Homo sapiens: one gene and its partner. The protein of the gene in region 2 interacts with the protein of the main gene of each other region in a pairwise test. Each region holds a gene or a part of one and is shown on either strand. Other genes may lie near its edges. The genes, in order: BDKRB2 and MPI.

Region 1 (3,814 bases), on a different chromosome or scaffold from region 2:
CTTGCTTTATGGATTGCCTGTCCCCGCCCCCACCAACTCCCCAACCTCCAGTCAATCTGGATGCTTATAGTATTTTCTTTTTCTCTTTTCCATTCAAAAGTGCTGTCAGATGTATTTAGGGGACACTGTCTCGTCTCACCCCTTTTCATAACCTGTGAGCCGGGCAAGGCACCATTGCATAGGTGAGGGCTTGGAGGCTGGAGAGATGAGGGACTGGGACTCAAACCACATTTCGGGATTTGGGGACATCTCCTGGCTGTGCCCTGAGGCCACCCCGACTCTGGCATGTGAGGCAAACCTGCTGTACAACGAAGGGGTCTGGACGAGGGAGTCTCACCAGGGGTGTTCAAATCCCAGCTCTGCCGGTCACTAAGGGAGGGACTGTAAGTGTGTGGCCTCCTGTCAGAGCCCAGGTCCCCGCTTGTGGGATAAGGAGCATTGTCCCCGGCAGGAGGGCTGTTGTGAGGATCCAGTGTGGTCATCCCTGGCACTCAGGAATCCTTCCTGTTGGTTCCCGTCCTCTCTCAGGAATGACAGTCGCCTCCTCTTTCCCCCAAATCCACAGATTGTTCTGTCAAGTGATGGGCCTGGGTGCCCTCACCTCCACCCCCTCAGCCACAGACACCACAGTCCAAACAGACTCCCGGAAGATATGGCCCAGACCACTTGCAGGGAAAGTCCCTGCGGCTGTACTCATCCTCATGGAAAACATGAGGACTGGCGGGGACTGGAGGGCAGGGAGTGAGGGGACATGCAGGGTGCCCCCGTCACAGGGCAGAGGGCTCTGACTGGGGCTTTTGGATCACCGCCCACCATGGGGAGGCCCAGGCAAGGGACTCATGCTCCTACCCATCTCTCCAGCCCCAGCTCCTCCTTCCCCTCCTGTCCCCTCCCTGCCCCACTGGTCTCCCCTGGCCCTGCCTGAGCATCTTTGGGAGTTCCCACCTCTCGACCTTTGCTTATGTAGGGAGGCAGGATGCGATGGGAAGACCCAGGCCAGGCTCCAGGGCCAGCCCAGTCTCTAGCTAGCTCTGTCTCCCCTCTAGGGACCATTTCCTCAACTGTCAAGTGGAGACACAATGCCTACTTGGCAGGTTTGTCGGGGGGGATACTTGTGATTGTTTTGGGGGGCCAAGGGTGCCCTGGGGCTCAGGCATATGTCAATGGCACTGGGCAGTCTCCCCTACCCTTTCTCTCCACTGTGCACCCTCCCTTACTTAGGGAGACCCTCTACTTTACCTAGGTCTAGGTCCTCCAACTTGAAACCTGCCCACAATGACACATCAAACATTGTAGGTGTGTCATAAGCTGGTGTGAGGACATGCAGGCAGCAAAGAAGCAACTTGTGTGTGTACACGTGTGTGTGTGTGTGTGTGTGTGTGTGTGTGTGTGTGTTTGGGTCGGTCCAGACAGAGGCCCAGGAAGAAGAAGAGTGGAGATCCTGCCACATGGCTCCTGATGCTGGAGGCTTAGGGACAAACCATCAGTGTGACTGTCCCAGTGTCCTCTGGGGATGGGACTTGGGGTTACAGATTCAGAGAGCTGTGTTAGAACCACTTGGGTCTCTGCCTGTCTCTCCCACCAGGCTCTCAGCTCCTTGTGGGGAAAGATCTCTGAGCTGAGGGGAGCCCTGAGCAGTCTCTCAGTAAGTGGTTAGGGGAGGAAGGAATAAACCAGCTTCCTGAGTCTAGGCACAGTCTGGGTACTTTCATACACAGTCCTATTGTGTTGGCACAGCAGTAGTCTTTATCACACAGGTGAGAAAGGAGAGGTTCGGAGAGGTCAGTGACCTGTCCTGGGTTACTCAGCAAGTAATTGGCCTAGTAACCTAACCCAGGACTGTTGAACAATCGGGCCAGTTGGTGCCAATTTCTAAATATTGACTATTAAAAAAATACTGGTGGCGAAATAGCTAGCACATCTGTGAGCCTGTTTGGGTTGTGGGCTCAGACCGAACTCCTATAAAGCATATGAAGCAGAGATGGTAGAATCCCAGGCAGGGGCCATGGAATGGGGGAGGGGGCGTTAACTCCTGCTATCCTACCTTTCTATAGGTGAGGCGCCTGCTGTTCAGAGACACAGGAGCATCAGCAAAACCCATCAAAGAACTGGGGGCCAGGGTAGAAAGGAGACCTTTCTGGGGGTGCTGATGGAAACTCCTACCCAGGCAAATCTTGTTTCCCAGGCATTCCCCCAGTGAAGACTGCACTGCTGTGCCCAACTTTGGCTGCAGGCTACTCTTTACCACCCAAGTGAGCCGCCACCCACTGATCTCTGCCATCAACTTATTCTAATTCTCTGCATAGCACATAGCACTTCCTGGGATTGCCCTTCTCCTGTCTGCTCTTCAAAGAGCCATCCTTAGATGGCCTACTGACATTAATGCTTTTTACCTTTCTAACTTGTCATTTTGTTTTTGTAATTCTTTTCTTTCTTCTACTTTTTTGGATCATTATTATCTAGTTTATTGAATTGAACAGTTTTTTTTTGCAATCTTTTTGGTTTAATAATTTAAAAATTTAAAGGCATGACTCATCCCCTGACTATGGCTTTGGCTGCATCCCATAAGTTTGGTAAGCAGTGTTCTTATAGTTAGTTGTTTCTCAAATATCTATAATTTCAGTTTTGATGATCTGTCTCTTTGATGTAACAGTGTTTTCTAAAATTTTCAAGTAGTTTATTTCTATTCAAGTTTGTTTTGCTTTTTATATTTAAATTTTTGCAAAGAGATATGCATCCTCATGGTAACATTTCAGAGTGCGAAAAAGAATACAGTGAGGGGTAGGTCTCCCTCCAGATTCTGTCCCTGCCTGTTGCCTCAAGAGACAGCCAGGCTCACTGGTGTCTCCTGTTGCTTTCCAGACATCTTCTGAGCTTTCAGGAGCAGATGTGCACATATCCATGTATAAGGACGCCTGCAGAAGCACCCTAAATGCACCGCCGGCTGTGTCCTCACCTCTTTGCATTTAACAATCTGTCGACCCACCTTGCTTTTCAATAGCCTCACAGTATTTCAGAGTAGGACTGCCCTGTAATGCACCGGCCTTCGCAGGGAGTTCCCAGTTTTCGTAGGTAGTTTGCAATTCTACTACTATTTATAGCTGAAGGAACCGAAGGATCCCAGAGACCACATCTCTTGCCCTAGGTCACACAGCAGGGGAGGAATGGGGTGGGATTCAATCCCTGTGCCTGGCTTCCGAAAAAGGAGGAGCGGGAGGAGGAGGGAGAAGGGAAGTGGGTGGAGAGAGGAATCATCTTCACAGAGTCCATCTCCCCAATGTGCTACAGTTCATTTGAGGAGTCCCCCCAGGTTTTCACTACTTTTGGCTATCACAAATGATCAGCACAGATCCCTCATCTGCAGGCCCTGGCCCACGTGTGAGCACACCTGTAGCAGGTGTGCAGACCCTCTCCTGCCTCCCCTGACCTGTTCTTGTGTTCTAGCCATTGCTTTCTGGATCTTTCTGTTCAAAGAAGACCAAGAGGTCCTTCTCTCACCTCTCACTTTGCTAACCGGCCAGTGGGCTCCAGAGTGGGGGTGATGTACCCCAGGTGCAGCAGCGCATGCACAAGGTGCAATCTCCGAGGCTCCGGGAGAACCCCAGAGAGCCTCCCTCTGTGGTCAGGGAGTGACCCCTGCACTCTTAGAGCACAGCAGGTGCCAAGCATGAGTGGGTGCTAGGGGCTGAGGGAAAGGCCCAGTCTTTTCCCTCGAGAGGATTCCTGTTTGGTAGGGATGGCGGGGCACAGCCTGATGCTTCCCGAAATGTTTGGGCCCAAATCTACCTTGAAAGGAGCTGGCTGTGAGCTGTGT
Region 2 (3,814 bases):
GTGTGGATAAGCAGCCAACAGTCGAAAGGTGGCATCCTTCCATGGCAACATGCATATTTTAGTGTAAAAATCCCTGGTAGGTAGGACAGACATACAAAGGCTGTGACAGAACAACAGCTTTGATCCAATATAGCCTGCGTTCAAATTGTGGTTCCCACACTGACTGGCAGGACTTAAAATCAGAGTAGCATGGCATCACAGGGTTGGTGTCAGGATTCAAGGCGTGTTCAATGCTAAATGCATTCATCATCCCTACCAGCTGTTGCTTGCTGAGCCCAGGAACCCTCAGAGGTCAGAGCTGCAAGGTCCTTGGGGGTCTCCTTGACCACCCTTCTCCTTCCTTTGTCCAGATAGGGAAACAGGGCCCAGCAGGGATGGCAGTGGGGCTCACTGCTGAAATGTGGCTCACCTCCTTTCAGGTAGGCATGGGGTACGTTGGCCTCCAGAAACATGGCCTCCCCAGGCTTCAGGGTAAGCAGGTTCAGGAAGTAGATGGCAAAGCAGCCGATATCACCTGGGTACTGCTGGTGCAGCTGTAGCAAAAGCTCCCCAAAGATGTCCTCCATGTTGTTTCCGGCAGCCGCTGAGGGTCACAGAGCACCCCAAGGTCACTTAGGGGGATACTCAGTGCTGTTCATAGCCCCACATTGGCCAGGGAGTCCTAGGAAAAGGTCCCTGCCACAGGAATCCAGAAGCCAAAGTGGCCCTGTCCTTCTGGCCACGCCTCCAGCCCTTTGGGGGTCGAGCCTTGCTTGATACTCCAGTCCATACAAATACCATCTTTCATCATATCTTGACTATTCATATGCCCAGGACTATACTAGCCACTAAAAGAGCTAGAGTATGGTCCTTTCAGGATGGGATTTCTCAGCCTTGGCGCTACTGACATTTGGGCTAGGTAATTCTTTATTGTGGGGGCTGTCCTGTGTACTGATGGATGTGTAGCAGCTTCCCTGGCCTCCACCCACAAGATGCCACTAGCAACCCCTATCTGGGTTTTGACAATCAAAAAATGGCTCCAGACAACAGCCAAATGTCCCCTGTATGAGAACCACTGCCCTTGGAGCTCAAAATCTAGGGAGATAACGCAAAAGAGTTTCATGAAGGGTAACCAACATGCCCGAGCTTTCCCTTTTTTTTTTTTGAGACGGGGTCTCGCTGTCACCCAGGCTGGAGTGCAGTGGCACGATCATACCTCACTGCAGCCTCAACTGTCCAGGACCAAGCAATCCTCCTACCTCAGCCTCCTGAGTAGCGAGAACCACACGTGCATGCCACCATGCCCGGCTAAGTTTTTTATTATTTGCAGAGAGAGGGGGTCGCTATATTGCCCAGGCTGGTCTCGAACTCCTGAACTCAAGGGATCCTCCCACCTAGGCCTCCCAAAGTGCTGGGAATACAGGTGTGAGCCACCGCACCCGGCGACTTTCTAGTTTTTAGCACTGAAAGTTCTGTGTCTCAGCTGGGCGCGGTGGCTCACACCTGTCATCTCAGGACTTTGGGAGGCCAAGGCAGGCGGATCACGAGGTCAGGAGTTCGAGACCAGTTTGACCAACATGGTGAAACCCCATCTCTACTAAAAATACAAAAAAAAAAAAAAAAAAAGCCAGGTGTGGTGGCACGTGCCTGTAATCCCAGCTACTCGGGAGGCTGAGACAGGAGAATCGCTTGAACCCGGGAGGCGGAGGTTGCAGTGATCGAGATTGCACCACTGCACTCCAGCCTGGGTGACACAGCGAGACTCCGTCTCAAAAAAAAAAAAGAAAGTTCTATGTCTCAGAGAATCTCTCTCGGTCTGCTCCAGAGAGCATGAGGCAGAATGCGCTGAGGGCCAAAATGTGTCCTGGAAACGACAAGGGAAAATGAGCTCAGCCTGGGTAGAGTGGCAAGGGTGGACTTCTTTAATTTTTAAATTTTTTTTCTTTTTCTTTTTCTTTTTTTTTTTTCCGAATCGGAGTCTTGCTCTGTCTCCCAGGCTGAAGTGCAGTGGTGCAATCTAGACTCACTGCAACCTCCACCTCCTGGGTTCAAGTGATTCTTGCGCCTCAGCCTCCTGAGTAGCTGGGATTACAGGCACACACCACCATGCCCAGCATTTTTTTTTTTTTTTTGAGACAGAGTCTCACTCTATTGCCCCGGCTGAAGTGCAGTGGCATGATCTAGGCTCACCACAACCTCTGCCTCGCCTGGCTAATTTTTGTATCTTTAGTAGAGATGGGGTTCCACCATGTTGGCCAGGCTGGTCTTGAATTCCTGACCTCAAGTGATACGGCCGCCTCAACCTCCCAAAGTGTTAGGATTACAGGTGTGAGCCACCGTGCCCAGCCAGGCTTCTTTAAAGTGAGGCAAGGGGCCTGGCGTGGTGGCTCACACCTGTAATCCTAGCACTTTGGGAGGCTGAGGCAGGTGAATTGCCTGAGCTCAGGAGTTCGAGACCCGCCTAGGCAACATGGTGAAACTCCGTCTCTACTAAAATATAAAAACTTAACCAGATGTGGTGGCACATGCCTGTAATCCCAGCTACTCAGGAGGCTGAAGCAGGAGAATTGCTTGAACCCGGGAGGCAGAGGCTGCAGTGAGCCAAGATCGCACCACTGCACTCCAGCCTGGGGCAACAGAAAGAGACCACACACACACACACACACACACACACACACACACACACACACACACACACACACACACACACACACACTGAACAGAAAAAAATATGCTTGGGTCAAATAAATAATGCCCTAAGGCTCAAAGGTAATGGGAAACCTGTAGAGGTAAAATAAAAAGAGAGCTCTGGGCCACCTAGAGAAGGGGTTGTGGCTGCCAGGCTAAGAAGCTGAGACCTCATCGCCTGCACCACATAAGCTCATTGCTGGGAGTCTGTTCTGTTTTGGGTTTCTTACTGCTTGTGTTGACTCCCCACCTTTAGGGTGACAGTGACCACACCCATCACAGTCATTTCCTGAACTCTTCTTAGCACAAGGTTGGGCACACAGAAGGTAAAGGAAAGATCAAATGACTGAGTGCTGGAGGCATCAGTCCTTTCCAGGAGAGGGAGGATGCTCGTGTCCCCTTCCTGCCTCTTTAGCCCCGAGATACAAGTCCATCCATGGAGGGCAGCTGCAGGGCTAGGGAAAATCTCAGAATGCCTAGGTGGAAGGCATCCTAAGAGTCCTCTATGCCAGTCTGCCTCCAACCATCTGGAGAAGATGACCAGTTGGGAAGCAGCACTCAACTAAGAAGGGCCCTGCTCCACAAAGACTAGGCAAGCAATGCTAAGTTGCCAACAGGTCATCTAAGTGGGGCCCCTTTTAGTGTTCCACTTGGGCAAGGGGGTTGAGAACTGTCCCCAGAGTCTGGTGTCTGCTGGGAAGCCCAGGCCAGAGCATTGCACCCAACCAGGAATATAACTGTGTCCACCTTGCTGGGAGATCCGCTTCACCAACAGGTTGAGCTGTTCCACCACCACCTTCTTCTCACTCTTCATCAGGTGGGAGAAACAGCTCTGCAGAGAGGAGGCCACAGCCTGGGAGTCATGGCTCATGGTCTGCTTCAGGTGTGTTGCTGCCTCATCTCCAATCAGGAACTGAAACTCAGGCACCTCTACAGGAAGGCAAGGCCCAGGGCCCATATCAGGAATGGTAAGATGGAACCCACACAAGTGGGGAGTTGGAGGACACCTTTCCATCCCAGCCCTAACCAAAGAGCCGGCAATGCTAAGTAAACTTTGCAGTGGAAACCAATCACTCACCACCAGCCCTTGACTACCACACCTGAGCCTGGTCTCACTGGCCTGGCTCACTGGCTCCAAAAACTGCTT

What was found.
Region 1: the proteins of MPI (region 2) and BDKRB2 interact in a two-hybrid assay, tested with the Homo sapiens proteins (one large-scale study listed by BioGRID and IntAct).

The regions. Positions count from the first base shown.
Region 1 is NC_000014.9:96,211,077-96,214,890, reverse strand, and holds part of BDKRB2 (B2 bradykinin receptor), read right to left. Parts: intron 1-3,814. UniProt on the Homo sapiens protein: Receptor for bradykinin. It is associated with G proteins that activate a phosphatidylinositol-calcium second messenger system.
Region 2 is NC_000015.10:74,892,921-74,896,734, reverse strand, and holds part of MPI (mannose-6-phosphate isomerase), read right to left. Parts: intron 3,598-3,814; coding exon 3,415-3,597; intron 584-3,414; coding exon 410-583; intron 1-409. UniProt on the Homo sapiens protein: Isomerase that catalyzes the interconversion of fructose-6-P and mannose-6-P and has a critical role in the supply of D-mannose derivatives required for many eukaryotic glycosylation reactions.